Regions from separate parts of the Homo sapiens genome. Here region 2 is reported to be linked to region 1. The links are microRNA targets in miRTarBase. Many come from high-throughput screens and were not tested one by one. Region 1 holds a microRNA gene; the other region holds the end of a gene's coding sequence.

Region 1 (5,177 bases):
GAGCCTTTTAAAAAAATCCCTCATAATTTAACCAGCTGAATTGGTAGAAGCTAAAAGAATCTGGGGTTTTTTGCTTGTTTCCTTGTTTGTTTTAATGAGTACCTGTGGACTTCCTAAAATCTCAGGCAAGTTGGAAGTATTTTTCTGGAAACTGGCTCCATAGCTTCCATCGTATTCTCAGAGGATGACCCCATAACCCCAAAACTGGGAGCTACTAGTATAGAAGGTTATCACTGGTCCTGCCTGGATTTTAAGGTTAGCGCCTTTTATTCTTCAGTCTCCGGGTCCTAAAACCTTTTAAGGCCTGCTCTTAACAAGTTGGATCTGTATTCCCTGAGATCCAAATACATATAATTTTCAGGCACAGAGAATCAGAGAGAGTCCATGGCTAAGTGACAATGAGTACTGAATGTTTCCAAAGCCCGTTGCCCACCGCCCCCACCTACAAATGAGATAATTGTCCTTTTCCCCCACAAGCTTCTCCCCTGGGCTCTTTCCATTTAAAGCACACACACACACACACACACACACACACACACACTGAACTCTATGTCAGTAGAGCTCCTTTAAGATCCTATCTGTCCTCCCCACTCCAGCTTCTATTTTATGAAAATAATTATATTTTAGGCACTTAGAGCATTGGTTTAGTGAACACATTATATTTACTTTCATATTTAGTTATGTATTTTTAAGTTATTCCACACAAAATGACAAATGAGGGCAAGAGAAAAAAATACCATGAAATATATGGGGACGCACCCCCCAAAAACGCTCAGCAGTCAGTCAGAAATTCTTAGAAAGTGGAAACAACTGCGAAGCCCTACCCCAACCCAATCAAAACATCCCACCCGGAAAAGAGCGACTTGTTTCTTTTTTCTATTGGAAATGAGTGGTAAACTGAGTTCGGTTTGGCGGTGTTTTCTTAGCTGACTCTCGGCTACAATCAAGCCATTTTCGGACACATTCCCATGTAGGTACCAGGGGTGCTCTGGAGGAAGCTGTCGACGCCTGTTCAGCTAATTTAGGTTTTCTTTGTCTAATTACTGTGGAGCTTAGGGAGAAGGAGCCGGCTCAGGGCAGTAAACTGACACTCGGTCTCTGTGTGTGGTATCCAGGCAGGGTTTGATGGAAAAAGCCTGCTTCCACTCAACCTCAGGTCACTGTCTGGGGCCAGCCCCGGCCCACCCCCCTCCCACATACCCCTCCCCTCCCCACCCGCCCTCTCTGCATCTACAGCCCCACCAGCACACTCAGCCAGGAGCAGTCCCCCGGCACTCCAGGGGCACACAGGGCTCCTGCCGCCCCAGGGGGCCTGCCTAGGCTGTGCGGCTGTGAAGGCTCTTTGCCTGGTGTCTTCCTCCTGATTACTGCACAACCTCCCTTTCTCCTGCCTCCTGCAACTCCCCAGGCTCCCCAGCAGGCACACCCGTGCACCTCGGTCCTTTCAGCCTAGACGCAGCGGGGTGCCCAGCTCTACCTCCTGTTTGGTCCGCTGGTCTGCAGCACCTTCTTTCTGGGCCTCCCCCTTCAGCCCTTGGGAGGCCCCGCCAGCTCCGGCCTCCTGCTCTCCTCCTCCCTCTCCCAGCTCCTATCCCTGGTCGGACTACATTTCCCTGCACGTGTAATCCAATAACTAACTGTCGGGTCTCATTGGAAGTGATTGCTCCCGAGGGCACATCTCTCTCAGAGCCTGACTCTTACTTAGGGAGGAATTAGCCACAACTGGGGAGAAGTGTTCTCGGACAGGAGTTAGCTGAGACCTGGCACAGTTTTGGGTGGGCAATGTTAAGACGGAGGATGTAAACCTAGTGACAGCTGCACACCCCTTCAGGACTGACTATAAATATAGCCATCTCGCTTATCTCAGGGTCTTTCTTTTTCTTTCTCTTTCTTTCTTTTCTTCCTTCCTTCCTTTTTCTTTTGCACTTTTTTCTTACAGAACACTAACTGGGGTGCGGGGGTGGGGGGAAGAAGTGGAAGCAAATGCAACCCTAAGTCCCATGAGATCCAGGTTTCCAGAGTCTTTGAAACTTGGCCTAGGTTTCTCAGTGTAAATCCCTCTGCTCAAAGTTCCGAAAACGTCCACGATCGCCAGCGGCCCGCAACCCTGCGGCGGCCCCCAGTCGCCCTAACAATTGTCGGGGAGCCTGCAGGCCCTGCCAGAAAGAGAGAGGATTGGCACGTTACCTTTGGGCGTCTGGCACCCCGGCGTGTGGCTGAGGGCGGCAAAGTCTAAACGAAGTTGACAGATGGAGTCAGTATCGGCCCTGGGGAGGGCGGCCAGGGAGGCTCCGAGCAGCCGCACCCGCAGCAGCACCACTCGGCCCGGCGGGCCAGGAGGAGGAAGGGGGCGCGGAGGGGCGGGGCTGGGTCCTGGGATGGGACGCGGGGCTTGCTGCGGGGGGCAAACAGAAAGAATATTTCATGAAGTCAGAGGTGGTCGAGTTTTGCGAGGGGTGGGGGTCGTCCCCCTGGCAGAACCGGAGTGAGTCTGTGATCCCTCAATTGGAAAGAGGGTGAGTGAGGGAAAGGGGAGGAGGCCGCGAGAGGAATGAAGAGCGAGGAGACCCTGGAGAGCGGGGAGCGAGATAAGAGAGGGAGGCGGCCGCCAGGTCGGGAGGGGGAGGAGTGAGCGCGGCGGCGCGGAGCGAGGAGGGGGCAGGGCGGGGTGGGGGGGGAGGGAGGGAGGGAGGGAGCGAGGAGGGCGGCCGGGGAGGGCGAGGGAGGGAGGAAGTCCGAGAGACAGAGCGAGGAGCGCTCCTGAAGGGAGACGTCGGGCTCGTCCCCGGGGTCCAGGCCGCGGTCCCACTCGCGGGCGCAGTCGCCCGGCGCCGGCCGCTCGGCCCCGCGGCCTGGGAGGCCGTTGCGCAAGGCAGGGCCCGCGGCTCGGGGAGGGATGCGCCGGGCGTTGCCTCCCGCCCGCCGCCGCCGCCGCCGCCAGAAGCCCCAGAGGAGCTGAGGGAGGCGACGCCGAAGCGCTGGCCCGGAGTGGCCACGGCTGCAGCCCGGGCGGCGGGCTAGGGCGCTCGCAGGGCTTCTGGGCCGACCCCGCTCCGGCGCCTCCGCTTCCCGCCCGGGGCCCGCCCTCGCGGCCCGGCCTCGCTCCCGGGTCCCAGATGACCACCGAGGGCGGGCCGCCGCCGGCCCCGCTCCGCCGCGCGTGCAGCCCGGTCCCCGGCGCGCTCCAGGCCGCCCTGATGAGCCCGCCGCCCGCCGCCGCCGCCGCCGCCGCCGCCGCCCCGGAGACCACCTCCTCCTCCTCGTCGTCGTCCTCCGCCTCCTGCGCCTCGTCCTCGTCCTCCTCCAATTCGGCCAGCGCCCCCTCGGCTGCCTGCAAGAGCGCGGGCGGCGGCGGCGCGGGCGCCGGGAGCGGGGGCGCCAAGAAGGCGAGCTCGGGGCTGCGGCGGCCCGAGAAGCCGCCCTACTCGTACATCGCGCTCATCGTCATGGCCATCCAGAGCTCGCCCAGCAAGCGCCTGACGCTCAGCGAGATCTACCAGTTCCTGCAGGCGCGCTTCCCCTTCTTCCGCGGCGCCTACCAGGGCTGGAAGAACTCGGTGCGCCACAATCTCTCGCTCAACGAGTGCTTCATCAAGCTGCCTAAGGGCCTCGGGCGGCCCGGCAAGGGCCACTACTGGACCATCGACCCGGCCAGCGAGTTCATGTTCGAGGAGGGCTCGTTCCGCCGCCGGCCGCGCGGCTTCAGGCGGAAGTGCCAGGCGCTCAAGCCCATGTACCACCGCGTGGTGAGCGGCTTGGGCTTCGGGGCGTCGCTGCTGCCCCAGGGCTTCGACTTCCAGGCGCCCCCGTCGGCGCCGCTCGGCTGCCACAGCCAGGGCGGCTACGGCGGCCTCGACATGATGCCCGCGGGCTACGACGCCGGCGCGGGCGCCCCCAGCCACGCGCACCCTCACCACCACCACCACCACCACGTCCCGCACATGTCGCCCAACCCGGGTTCCACCTACATGGCCAGCTGCCCGGTGCCCGCGGGACCCGGGGGCGTCGGTGCGGCCGGGGGCGGCGGCGGCGGCGACTACGGGCCGGACAGCAGCAGCAGCCCGGTACCCTCGTCCCCGGCCATGGCGAGCGCCATCGAATGCCACTCGCCCTACACGAGCCCTGCGGCGCACTGGAGCTCGCCTGGCGCCTCGCCTTACCTCAAGCAGCCGCCTGCCCTGACGCCCAGCAGCAACCCCGCCGCCTCGGCAGGCCTGCACTCCAGCATGTCCTCCTACTCGCTGGAGCAGAGCTACTTGCACCAGAACGCTCGCGAGGACCTCTCAGGTAACGCAGCACGCTCCAGCCCAGCCAGCTGGGCGCACCGCTTCTAGGCCTCCAGGGCTGGCGGCCACTGCCACTCCCACAAACAGGGACCCCGAAGCTAGGAGGTCTGAGGGCACTGGGAAAAGCAGATGCTGGGGAAAGCCGGCATCTTATTCGTGGGAGCAGGGATCAGGGTCTTACTGTCCTCCCAGTATCCCTGGCCAGCAGCCGAAGCTTCAGAATTGTCTGGCTGCTGTGAGCGTGGTGTAAAGTCCCCTGCCTTCCTGGGCTCTTTGGGGATCCCTGTGCAGGAGACTGCAGGTCTCCCGTTCAGAGTCTCACTTAGCTTGGAGAGAAGGCATCTGGCCTTTGGGGAACTTGGTCAGGAAGCTGTGTCTAGTTCCTTTTGTCCCTTTTTTTCCTTGCGTTCATTTTGCTGTACTTCTGTCCCGAAGTAAATGTCAGAATCAGATATGTTCTGTATGTTGGGGTGTCTGCAGCGAGATGTTTGCAGCTGGGCAAGTGTTAAGAGGAGGGGGTGGGAGGGACAGAGCTGGATCCCAGGATCTTTCACTAAAGGGACATTTGCCAGTGGAGGGGGTCACCAAACTGTTGGAGACTCCTCCCCTTCCCTGCCTCCCCCCCCGCCCAACAATGGACCCACATTGATGATACAGGTCCTGGGTGGCAGGACCTGAAGGACCCTGCTAGGACTCCCCTGAGAAATGCGCCTGCCCTGTGGATGCCACTTGTAGTGTGGCTGGTTTACATTGTTCTGGTTGCAGATTATGAAAAATTATTGACTTGCTGAAGGCGGTGAAAGGTGGGAGGGGACGGTAGGGATGGAAGAGGGAATTTGAATATTTGACCAGGTTAATGTGAAGAACAGAGATAAACCCTTACATTAACCC
Region 2 (5,000 bases), not on the chromosome of region 1:
GACCTCTGGGGCACTGAGAAAATGAGGCTGGTTATCTTCTCATAGCAGGAGCCAGGGCCAGTCACCCTCCATTTCCAGGCTGGAAAAGTACAGAAGCACCTTGCAATAGCTCTTCATGACGTCAAGGGACCCCACACCCTGGGAGAAGGGTTAGGAGTGTGCAGCTTCCTGCTTTGGTGGCAGGCCTTTTCCTAATATGGGTGTCAGAGGAGTTGAGGCAGCAAATATGCTTGTGTCTAATACATGCCTTGATCTTTTAGTTTGGAAGGGAAAACAAAGTCCAAGATGCTTTTAAGTTGGATTGATGCTGAAACAGCTAAAATTTCATCTTATCCACCATCAAAAAGCAAAACAAAATTAAACAAAATGACACTAGCCATTCACCATTACAACCATCACTATAAGACACACCATCACTGAGGAAATGACAACTATTTCCATAGAGAGTGCTGGATGGGAGGGCAGGACACAGACGGAAGTCAGCTTCAGCGTATACCCACTTACTCACAAGGGCTGACCATGATGGCCCTGCTCTGCATGAGGACTCACAGGACAGCCAGGGCACTGATGCCTGCAGGACTGCATGGCCGACAAGATGATGCACATTTTAATATTCAAAATGTAAACAAAGTATCCACAAATAGTCCAAAAAAGCCAAAGAATGGCTTTACTTAAAAATTTTTAAATGCCCTTAAAAGTGACTTTTTGCATAATGCTTTCTTAAAAAAAGAACTCTCACAAAAACATTTTTACCAAACATGCCTAGATCACTTCAGAACTGAAATCCTCAGATGAAACAGGTGAACACTTCTGTGACCTGCTACATCTCAGAAGCTTCTCATAGGAAGCTTTGAGTTTACCCAACAGCATCTGTCTGGGGCCTGTGAGCAGAGTACCTCAGAGCCTGAGGCACTGAGATCTTCAGGCTGTCCTTGGAGCTCTGGGTAGTTTGCAAAATGAGAAAGAGGAACTATCAGTAGGGATAAAGACACAGAACAAGGAAATCCATAACCCTGTCTCAAGCCTCCTCAGAACCAGGAAAATACTAAAGATCCTGAAGAGACTAAGATGATAGGAATGATCCCAAACATTTAGAATCTGAAAGGCAACTAAAATGAGGAGAGATGAATATTACGGTACTATAGTACTACATGTCTACTACAGTATCCATTAGTCCTGGGTGTCTCCAAAAATCAAGAAAGGGTTGGGGTTTCCCTTTCTACTGACCAGGTTCAGCTCAAGTTCTGTATGCTCCTGGGGCTTTTACCCCATACACCAAAACATCAACTGTTTTTATATATGTACATATGTGTACACATGCACATACACTCCTCCAAAATAAGTGAGAGTCTATGGTGGTTTAAAAAGAGAGAGAGAGAGAGGAGAGAGAGAGAGGCAGGCAGGCACTGGGCAAGAGTCAAAGTTTTTCCTATTCATCTTTGCCAGTCTATCAAATCTGCTGCTTCAGGTCAGGTCATGAACAAAAGAAAAGGGAAAGATGCCACTGGAGATTATAAAAGTCTGAAGAGAAGACAGTCTGGAAAGTCCTTGACAGTTCACTGCGCACCTCCCCTGGACACTGCTCAGCTATGTAAATAACCCAGGAACACCCAATTCTGGGAGTCTGAAAAGGCTGGCACAAACTCCTTGGCATGGTTGAATGACAGATATTCTGTAGAAGATGTTTATTTAGGCAGGTAAATTAAATGATAAAAAAAGTAATTATAAAAAGGCAGAAAGACTTTCCTCTGCTCTTGAAAATTTTTTTTCCCCACAGTATTAGTGGGTTTTGTCCCATCTTTGTTGTTATTTAATGCAGTGAGTGAACATTAAACACAGTGGAGGGGAGAAGAGGGAACAGTCCAAAACTTTGGTCCTGCTTGTACCTCTTAGTGTGTGGGATGTCATCATCGTAAGGGGTTACCACAAGTGGATGCCACTCTCTTAACTTCCAGGCAAACCCTCTCCCCACCCTGCCATAAGTTCCTGCCCTTCCCCATCATATTGGTGGTGGAACTGCTTCAAGAAGGCAGGGTATTCTACATGGAAGAGCTCTGGAAATCCATAACCCTGTCTCAAGCCTCCTCACATTGGTTCATACCACCTAACAAAACACTTTACAACACACAAATATCCAGGAATCACAAAACTGAGTGGATGAGATACTTGAACATTCAAGGAGACTACTGAGCAACAGCACAGGGTACACATAATCACTGCACCATAGAGACGCTTTTAGCAAGTGGTTTCTGTCCAACCTGCTTCCTGGCAGGGATGTCAGACCCAGCCTTGGCTTCCACACAACTTCACAGCTCCTCTTAAGACCCAGTGGCCCCAGTCTACCTTTTCTGCATCTTTTGGGTCGCCCTGCCATCTGCCCCCACCAAACTCTGGCCTCTGACATCATGCTGACAGTCTGTGCATTTGTATTTTCCTCAGTGCTGTGATAAGCCAAAAACCTGTCTCCAGTCTATACTCAGTCAATCCTCAGTAACGTGGACATCAACGAAAGCAAATCTGCAAGCCTCTTCAGTTTCAATGAGATGCAGAGGTGTTTCATGCTAGACTAAATCTGTTTTCTGTAAGAAGCTACAAGAGGCTTGTTTATGACAGGCGCTGCTGCGTTAAGGATCTCCACAACAGTAGCAAAACGACAGCATCCTAAATGGAGTCACTGTGGGCACTTGCCCCTGGCTGAGGCCTCCCCTGTGGCCTTCAGCCTCTACTAGGAGCTTCCACTCTGGGCAACTCACATATACTTCCTGGCTGTGGTTGAGATACTGGCAAACAATGTTCTGGGATTTCAGTCTCACAGAGAAATCAGCTTTCAGTCACGCTGTGACCTAATGGGAGCCTTTAGGGGTGTCTCTGAGGAAAAAGTTACTAATGCATAATTTGGCAGGAGCTGGTGATTGGAAGTCTCCATTTAAACAACTACAGCCACCATCAACATATTGTACAGATTCCTATCAACACCCAACACTTTCATTTCTGGTGTCTGTGTTTTCCAGTTGCAACTCTACTCCTTCTTAAAAAGAATAAATCAAAATTACCCTACAACATGAACAAGACACTAAGACAGTGACAATATTATGTACATAAATACTGTGTACAAACTTTAGAGAAATGACAAACCTTCCAGGAAAAGGAAAAAAAAGTGTTAACAGTGATAATACCAAAAATAAAACGTTGCATTCAATGGATGTTAAACATATGTAACAATTCAAATATAATCTATGAAATTTAAAAAAATAGGCAGCATGGGGACAACAGCATGGGGAAGGAAAATAAACTGGAAGAAAATATGGCCATTAAACTCAGAAGGCCCAAAGAATTATTCAAGTAATGGAAGGGTTAAAACCCTACATACATATTCATTTTACAAGAACACACTGACTTTCGATTGCTGCTTTTCAAACATGTCACTGTTGTTTTCAGTTGGGAGGACACTGCAGAGCACATTTTTCTGGCAGGGAGAGCCAAGATGCCCATCTGTGTGGATCCCACCAACCCAGCAGTTTCTGGGCAGCAGCCTCTCCACCCCCAACTTTATGTCTTCCTCCTCTTATCATGCTTTCCTCTACAGAAGACCACTTGGATTTCATTTGGGGTCCTGTTTTAATTTCAAAAATAATTTTCTTGGGAAAAAAACTATATGATAAATTTGCAGAGCCGGCCATTATCATGTCTTACTGTAACGATACACTCTGGAACACCGGAAGACCCTCTTTTAAAGCAAAGCGGAACCTGCCTCCTTCAGGAACTCTAAAGGGCTGCGGCTGGATGAAGGCTGAGAGCCCTCTGACTTCTGGCTGACCTTTAGCCCATTCGATGCCTCAGGTCTGGAAACCAAACCATCATCACAAAGGCAGGGGAACATCTCCAATCCCCAGCTTTATCTCCACCCCTCCGAATCTGCTTCCTTCCCTCAATTAAGAAACCATGCCTTTTCTCAGAGGGCAAAATGAGAAGCAGGTGGCAGCTGACTGAAAAACAGCAATTTGCCTTTGATAAAGGTGTTCTCTGAAAATGACTTTTTTGAGGTTTGATTTTTTTAAATAAAAAATGATAAACGGTCTTGCCATCCAGATCAATCTCTCTTTCCCCTTACATATACACACACATACACACTGAAAAACACCCAAACCCTGCATGCACCAGAAACAGTAAAATGACCAAAATATTATAAAATTAACCAATAAAGTGCATGTTCCTTACATATTACACCTGCCCCTTTTACAAACATTTCTTCTAGAAAGTCACATGTGTAGGCTCAGAATCACATGGTATTATAGAAGGGGTTGGTTGTCCGTTTTTTGTCATTTGCCTTTTTCAGTCTCCTAAGGGGGTGAGTTCTGCCGTGTTGCTGACGGGGTGCCACGGCCAGCCCTGGAGCTGGGCATGCACACTGCAGTCCCTGGGTCTGTAGCACGGGAAGGCCTCCTTCAGAACTAGTCAATTCAAGTCCTGCCCTGGGGAGCAAATACTGCTGACTAGAACCAAATTCTTTGGCATACTGCACAAGGGGCCTCTCCACTGGCTTGCTCTGCACAATACACTCTGTTGTTGTGAGTTGTTCTACAAAAGACTTGGTGGGCTCTGGGTTGTGGGGGGCACCTGGGTTTTCTAGGGACTCTTGGTCCTCCATCGCGTGCATGCCTGAGTCTGTTCTGAGGAAAGGCTGAAGCAGTTTGAGATGAGGGGATTCACAGGAGGCAGGCTCCCTCTCTGGTAAGCAGTCTTTACAGAGGTCCAAGTAACCTAATTTGGCGAGAGAAGCTGAGCGCCTCATTTGGGATGGTTTGGTGAGCCCTGCCTGGAAAACCACTCGAGACTCGATTTCTTTAGCACGCTCCTTCACCACACCGGGGCTGTGGCTGAGACTCTTTATGTTTTCACTACTAGAGCTATGTGGGAGTCGACAGGCTACAGGCAATGGGTCCATTTTCTCCTGTAACTCCCCAGTGTTGTCACCAAGTTTGCTAATTAAACTTAGGTCT

What was found. Region 1 holds the annotated microRNA hsa-miR-6720-5p (UUCCAGCCCUGGUAGGCGCCGCG, at 3,528-3,550, opposite strand). A microRNA usually pairs through its seed, bases 2 to 8, with sites in the 3' UTR of a target mRNA and lowers its output. Matches are read on the target gene's strand: a 7mer-m8 pairs with bases 2 to 8, a 7mer-A1 pairs with bases 2 to 7 and ends in A, and an 8mer does both.
Region 2: the mRNA of SSH2 is a reported target of hsa-miR-6720-5p. The part of its 3' UTR that is shown has no 7-base or 8-base seed match.

Annotation. Positions count from the first base shown.
Region 1 is chr6:1,386,832-1,392,008 of GRCh38, forward strand. It overlaps MIR6720 (microRNA 6720), which reads right to left and starts at 3,580; the gene lies at 3,483-3,580. FOXF2 (forkhead box F2) reads left to right here and starts at 2,745. Exons shown (of 2, transcript NM_001452.2): 1 at 2,745-4,287. The coding sequence starts at 3,117. FOXF2-DT (FOXF2 divergent transcript) reads right to left here and starts at 2,630. Exons shown (of 3, transcript NR_187218.1): 1 at 2,188-2,630. RefSeq lists an enhancer at 3,927-4,792.
Region 2 is chr17:29,626,562-29,631,561 of GRCh38, forward strand. SSH2 (slingshot protein phosphatase 2) reads right to left here. Exons shown (of 16, transcript NM_001282129.2): 16 at 1-5,000. The coding sequence ends at 4,280. Among named protein-coding and RNA genes, the nearest start is that of CORO6, 6.2 kb to the left of the region's middle.